Linked DNA regions of Homo sapiens. The protein of the gene in region 2 purifies or fractionates together with the protein of the main gene of each other region. This does not show direct contact. Each region holds a gene or a part of one and is shown on either strand. Other genes may lie near its edges.

Region 1 (3,500 bases), on a different chromosome or scaffold from region 2:
CAAAATTCCCTTTCTCTTTGTCTTGTAAATAGCTCCACCTCACCACCACCACTAGGCATTGTTCTCAGCAATTAATACCTGTTTAATCAGTTACTCCTTGTAACTATTTCATGCTGTGAAGTAGGTACTACAGTTGTTAATAAAGAATAATGTTGTACTCTGAATGCTATTCCTAGGAAATAACCATAAAACATTTCTGAAAAAAAATTCTGCACACTATCAGCATGAACCAGATGAAGATGCAACACCACAACCTTGAGTGAGCAAAGCGCCCTAACTCAGCATATGTGTGTGTCTTATCCTTCCTTTTGGCTTATCACAAAAAAAAAAAAAAAAAAAAAAAGCTTTAGGACTACGACAGGCCCATGTGGCAGAGAACTACATTAACATGCAGATGCCCGAGATCGAGCCTGGAGCTAAGGAGTCAGTTCCCTCTGCTGTGGGGCCCAGGTATGGGTAGGAGTCTGCTCATGACTCAAATCATAGCCTGGCTGACCCAGTGGACTAGTTTCTAAAAACATCCACTCCTTCCTGTTTCAACAATCATACACCAGAGCCTGCTACCACGTTTGAATTTATTTCAATGATATGCAGGTCAGAACCTTATCTGTTTATATTTCAATGCCAAAATATTTTAAAAATGACTTTTTAATGATGTGTAAAATTGTTCCAACTTTATAAATAACCTCCATTTGTTTGCTTTCAGATTTTGTACATTTGTTTTTTATCTTAATAAACCAAATCTATTCACAGAACTAGGAAGATGCTTATTAATACCAGATTGCATGGTCCATATATCAAGTTTAGCAAATAAGCATTATCCACTTATTTGCTAAAAGCAATCTTTTTCCCTCCAGGTAATTTAGATGATTCTCAAAGATGACATATCATTTTGCAATCTGATTGCAAATTCTATACTGCCACATGATCTATAATAATTATCTCAAAAAAAAAAAATCCCAGTAAAACAAGTGAAGGCTGACAGAGCAAGTAACATTATTCAGCTGAAGCTAATCAATCAGAACGTTATACTTACCCCACTTTCTGCTCCGGAGGGCTGGAGACAGGAGGGATGGAGAGGCTGTGCCTAGACTCAGTGGGTGATGGTAGGGGCATTCTGTCAGGACAAGGACTGGGGGAAGCAATGTGTGATCTGCCCAGACCTAAGGTGCAGAAAGAACCAAGGCAAGAATATTACCAATTGCACGGAGAAGATACCAACGTGGTTTCTAAAGAGCTCTACTAGTTTGAAAATAAACTGTTATCCTCACAAATAGCCAATTATGATGCATAAGATCCAGAAAACTAATGATTCAAGCACCTAAATTAAATTGCAGTGGCAATAATAAAATGCAGGAAACCAACAGGCAGCAAAGGCAAGGCAACTATCACTCTCTAAACAGCTCTGTGTGCCAAACACTAGACCTTGCCACTCTGGCCCGCTGACCCTCACGGCAACCCTGTGTCGTGGGCAGGGTGGCTACCCAACTCCAGAGCACCCCGCAACCCTTTGTGCGGGTGGCTTACCTTCCAGATACATTTCACTTTCGAGGCTTCTTTTTGCTTTTGGAAGGGGTGTGGAAGAGAGGCGTCTGGAGGAAGTGCCCCCGCGGAGCCTCGAGGCTGCACTGCCTGTCAGTGCTTCCACGACGTCATTCCTTTCTTCAAGTGTGCCCACTTGAGGCTGCTCAGAGACAACTCTGTCCTCTCCAAAAATATGTCTTTCCGGGGAACTGGAAGTAATGTTTTTGAAGGCTTCCAGCAAGTGCAGAGATGGTGGGCTCTTTGCTGCTAGTGGGCTTTTGGCAGAGTTTTTAATGACTCTCCGATGGTAACTTCTGAAAGCCTTTTCCAAGCGTTCGGCCTCTTGCTGAAGCTCTTTGACCCTTGCCTTAGTATTGGCTACAAACTCAAGGTCAGAATCAGGGGAACTACCCTCCACCCATGCAGTTGGATAATTTGTGATCCTTGATGCAACCATACGTGCTAGAACGTTTTCCTGTTTAAAAGGATTGTTCAAGAAATCCCCACTTATCTCACCATTGCAAGGCACCACATTGCCATTTATTAATCCATTGACAGAACGATCGATCACAGACTGCTTTGGATTGCAGTACACTTCATTCTCTAGGGCTGCAGGGTACAAAAAGCCAATTTCAGAAGTAAGTGGACAAGGCAGAGAAGAAAATATACTTGAGAATATTATTTTTTTGAAAAATGGAAGAGAGTAATAAGGACAAACTTGCACTATACAGTTTCTGAAGCCATGGTAACGATAACCACTAACATTTACTGAGAGCTTATTGTACCAGCTACAGCTTTGTATGTCTTTTGTAACATGATATAATTTCAGAATCCATTATGCACAATTTTGAAAGCCACAAGGCTCTGAGAACTGAAAATTTATTCATAATTTATTTGGTGGCAAAGCCCAACCAGACTTGAACTCATTTGGTTGAAAAGTTTGACCTGAACTGATGTAAACCCATTTATAATCTTTATTTATCCCAGCATGAATATTCATACAGTTGACTGCAAAATAATTAATGTGCTTTACTATAGGATGCTGTTCAGAACTCCCAGGGCTATTGCGAAATCCACAGCATATGGCCCGAGTTTCATATAAGGAAGTGAGGACCTGCATTCACAACAACACTGTGGTCAAGAAACTCTCACTGCTCCCATTTTACAGATGGGGGGACTAAAGCTTACTGAGGCTGGGTCACACGGTTAGCAAGTCTAAGAGCTACTGGGCTTTCCTAATGCAAAGCCAGTGCACCTGCCCCTCTCTCCTGCAATGCCTCCCCGTGATGCTACAAGAAAGAAGCTTGCCCTCGGCAACACATGCATGCGAAAGAGTTCTATCCTCATTCAACTATTTTTTATTGATAGGAGACTGCTATGATTTCAGCTGTGAGAAGTTTCACAAACAGAACTGAAAGAAAATGAGGAACAGAAAAAAGCAGAAACGAGTAGAGATAAAAATAAAACAAGTGCTGGTAGAAGAGAGCAAGGAGCTGATGAGGAAACAATGCAGGTGGGAACAAGGAAGGCTCAGACCCAGTTGAACTGGTAACACATACGTACTTTCTTTGAACTTGAAAGCAACTGAAGAATAAAGTATCTGAACTTTAATATCCTTCTTACGAAGTAGGAAGGGGCAGAGATGCATCCACAGTGAAGACACAATAATAAAATGATACCAATAACCATTTCCTGAGTGTCTTTTATGTCCCAGGCACTGGACTGAAACCCATTTCATCTTTTTCATCATGGCTCAGTAGGTATTATTATCCCCATTACAAATGAGGAGACTGAGGCCCAAGGAAGTTAAAGTAACATGCCCAAGGTCAAACAACTTCAAAACGGGTCCAAAAGAAGAACAGTTCTGATTCTGAAGGCAATATTCTTTTTGCTAAACCACCCTGCTTGTCCTGTATATTTATATATCTATCAAGGAATCCGTAAAACTACTGAATTGGTGTTAACATTGGGGTAAC
Region 2 (3,500 bases):
GGACGCTGCCAGCTAAGGTCTCTCATGGCTACAGCTGAAGCCGGAGGTAAGCTGAGCCCCTGCGGCAAACAACAAGGGCATTTAGTGGCGTGATAATTGGCACTGCAAGGAAGGGGTGCTTATCAGCAGAGCTTCAAGGACGTGAGTTCCTTCTGCCTCTGGGCTCTGCCATCCTCAGCATCTCCCCAGAGCTTGATTCTCTTAATGGTTGCAGTCAAGGACACGGGCTTCCTTGTCTGCATCTAGCAGGATGGAGAGAGCAAGAACTCTCCTTCCGACAGTGGCCCTTTAGTCTGATCAAGCCCCCTCAGGGTCTACACTGACCCTCAGCCTAACATCATGGCTGGGTGACGGCCAGGCTGGGCTTACATGAACAGCCTGGGGTGGGAAGCACCGAGTTGTCACTAGCAGTTCCGTTGGGTCAAGCCACAGAGGTGGTGGAGTCTCAGAAGTTTGCCCTGCATGCCAGACAGGCAGCATCCAAACCCATGCATGGTCTTGCATGAATCAGCCCCTGACCTTGTCTCTACTCCCATCTCAACTTCTTCCCAGCCCTCTCCCCGCATTCTGCAGCCACCCTGGCCTTTGCTCAGTGCCTGGCATGTGCCAAGTTCTTTGCTGCCTGGGGCCCTTGCCTGTGCTGTCTTGGCTTCCAGGAATGTGCTCTCCTCTGCTCTTCTGCGGCTGGCTCCCTCAGGTCTCAGATTAAATGTCACCTCCCCAGAGAGACCTCTGAATCTCCTAACTGAAAGAGGCCTCCCTGTTATTTTCTCTCAGGGTGCCATCTTGATGTTCCTTACAGCACTTAACTCAAAGCATAATGGTTTTATTTACTTTTTAAAACATTTGGCCGGGCCCGGTGGTTCACACCTGTAATCCCAGCACTTTGGGAGGCCAAGGTGGGCGACTCACTTGAGGTCAGGAATTCGAGATAAGCTTGGCCAACATGGCGAAACCCGTCTCTACTAAAAATATAAAAATGAGCCGGGTGTGGTGGCGGGTGCCTGTAATCCCAGCTACTCCAGAGGCTGAGACAGAAGAATCGCTTGAACCTGGGAGGTGGAGGTTGCAGTGAGCCGAGATCGCGCCACTGCACTTCAGCCTGGGTGACAAGAGCAAAACTCCATCTAAAAAAAATAATAATAAATTAAAAAGAAAACATTTTTCCCCCACTCCTAAAATATGTGCTCTTGCCATAAGGGCAGGGACCCCACAGGCCTTGTTCCCCACTGTATCTTCATAATTTAGCACATGCCGGAGGCCTGCTAGGTGACTAATAGTGTTTGCTGCTAGGTGACTAATAGTGTTTGCTGCTAGGTGACTAATAAATGACTGAAAGAAATTCACTCAGAAAAGCATGCTAGATTTTTTTTTCTATCTTTTGCATAGTACAGTGTCTAGATGCTATCCAATGAAGTATTGCTTTTTTTTTTTTTTTTTTTTTTTTGAGAAGGAGTCTCGCCCTGTCACCCAGGCTGTAGTGCAGTGGTGCAATCTCGGCTCACTGCAACCTCCGCCTCTTGGGTTCAAGCGATTCTCCTGCCTCAGCCTCCCAAGTAGCTGGGACTATAGGCGCCTGCCACCATGCCCGGCTAATTTTTTTTTTTTGTATTTTTAGTAGAGACGGGGTTTCACCATGTTAGCCAGGATGGTCTCCATCTCCTGACCTCAAGATCCACCTGCCTCAGCCTCCCATAGTGTTGGGATTACAGGCGTGAGCCTTGTACCCGGCCAAAGTATTGCTTTTTTAAAATACTTTTTTGCCAGTACTTTTAATGGCAAAAACCACAGTTACTTTTGCACCAATCTAATATTAACTACCTGGTTAACATTTTCCTCATTTTACTAAAAATAGAGTGTAGGGAGAATAAATAAAGTTACTGGAATGTTCCCCTAGCTGTTATCCAGGGAATCCAAGGTTAGCCATAAGTTGGGTCCCATTTAATTTAAGATATTTGTACCTTCCATGGGGCTTTACAATCTACAAAGGCATGCCTGGCCAGGTGCAGTGGCTCACGCCTGTAATCCCAGCACTTTGGGAGGCTGAGGTGGGAGGATTTATTGTGACCAGGAGCTCGAGACCAGCCTGGTCAACACAGCAAGACCCCATCCCTACTTAAAAACAAAATAGGGCCGGGCGCGGTGGCTCACGCCTGTAATTCCAACCCTTTGGGAGGCCAAGGCTGGTGGATCGCTTGAGCCTAGGAGTTTGAGACCAGCCTGGGCAACATGGCAAAATCCCATCTCTACTACAAACACAAAAATTAGCCAGGTGTGGTGGTGCAGGCCTGTAATCCCAGCTACTCGGGAGGCTGAGGCACGAGAATCACTTGAACCCGGGAGGCAGAGGTTGCAGTGAGCCAAGATCGCACCTCTGCACTCCAGCCTGGGCAACAGAGCAAGACTCCATCTCAAAAAATAAAATTAAGTTAAATTTAAAAGATTTTTAAAAAATAAATAGAAGGGTATGCCTATGCTGGTAACAGCAACTAAAACGCCCATTACCGAATAGGTGTCAGGCACTCTTCCAGTGCTTTTTATAGCTTATTTCACTTGGTCTTTATAACACCTGTAACACACATGATATCCTTATACCCGTTTAACAGATGTGGACGTTGAAGCTCACAGATGTTGGGTAACTTGTTCAAGGTCTCACCACATGGTTCAGCAGACCTGAACCATGGTCTGCTGGTTCTTTGAAAAGCCCATTTCTGACAGAAGGTCTCGGTACTGCTTCCCAGCCTGGAACACCCCCACGCCTGCACACTGCCTGTCACCCCACCCCAGTGCTGATGGTGCTGTGGCCAGGCTGACTCTGAAAGAGTACTGAGGAGGGAGGTGCAGCTGTGTTTTCAACTCTGTGGCAGCCAAGAAAATGGGCCTTTCTCCCTTTTTCTCCCCAGATCATCTACCTCCGGCGGTTCAAGTGCCTGCGGACGCTCAGCCTCTCTAGGAACCCTATCTCTGAGGCAGAGGATTACAAGATGTTCATCTGTGCCTACCTTCCTGACCTCATGTACCTGGACTACCGGCGCATTGATGACCACACAGCAAGTGTCTCCCTCTCAGTCTCCCAGCCCTGTGAGACAGATTCCTCAAGCCCCCAGGTTTCTTGGAAAAGGGGCATTGAAGAGTAGCTTCCCCTGCCCACAACTAGGAGAGAAAGGGCAGCTCCCTCTTCCTAATCCCTTTACCTGACTCTGTCAGAGTGATTCCAGCAGCACCCTTGTAAGTACTGTTTTGTGTGCGTTCCCAGGGGCCAGGCCTCTTCCACACACTGTCCCAGGGCCACCTCACAGCCATCCTGCACTGTCTAGTTTTCCAGATGAAGAAGCTGAGGAGGGCTGGGAGCAGTGGCTCACGCCTGTAATCCCAGCACTTTGAGAGGCTGAGGCGGGAGGATCGCTTGAGCCAAGGAGTTCAAGACCAGCCTGGGCAACATAGGGAGACCCCATCTCTACAGAAACTACCAAAATTAGCCAGGTGTGGTGGCACACACC

The links. The genes of interacting proteins can lie anywhere in the genome.
Region 1: the proteins of DRC3 (region 2) and OFD1 purify together in Homo sapiens (affinity purification with mass spectrometry; one large-scale study listed by BioGRID and IntAct). This does not show direct contact.

What each region holds. Positions count from the first base shown.
Region 1 is NC_000023.11:13,758,748-13,762,247, reverse strand, and holds part of OFD1 (centriole and centriolar satellite protein OFD1), read right to left. Parts: intron 2,134-3,500; coding exon 1,528-2,133; intron 1,164-1,527; coding exon 1,037-1,163; intron 1-1,036. UniProt on the Homo sapiens protein: Component of the centrioles controlling mother and daughter centrioles length. Recruits to the centriole IFT88 and centriole distal appendage-specific proteins including CEP164. Involved in the biogenesis of the cilium, a centriole-associated function.
Region 2 is NC_000017.11:17,989,862-17,993,361, forward strand, and holds part of DRC3 (dynein regulatory complex subunit 3), read left to right. Parts: intron 1-2,903; coding exon 2,904-3,050; coding exon of another isoform or gene 3,051-3,107; intron 3,108-3,147; exon of another isoform or gene 3,148-3,228; intron 3,229-3,500. UniProt on the Homo sapiens protein: Component of the nexin-dynein regulatory complex (N-DRC) a key regulator of ciliary/flagellar motility which maintains the alignment and integrity of the distal axoneme and regulates microtubule sliding in motile axonemes.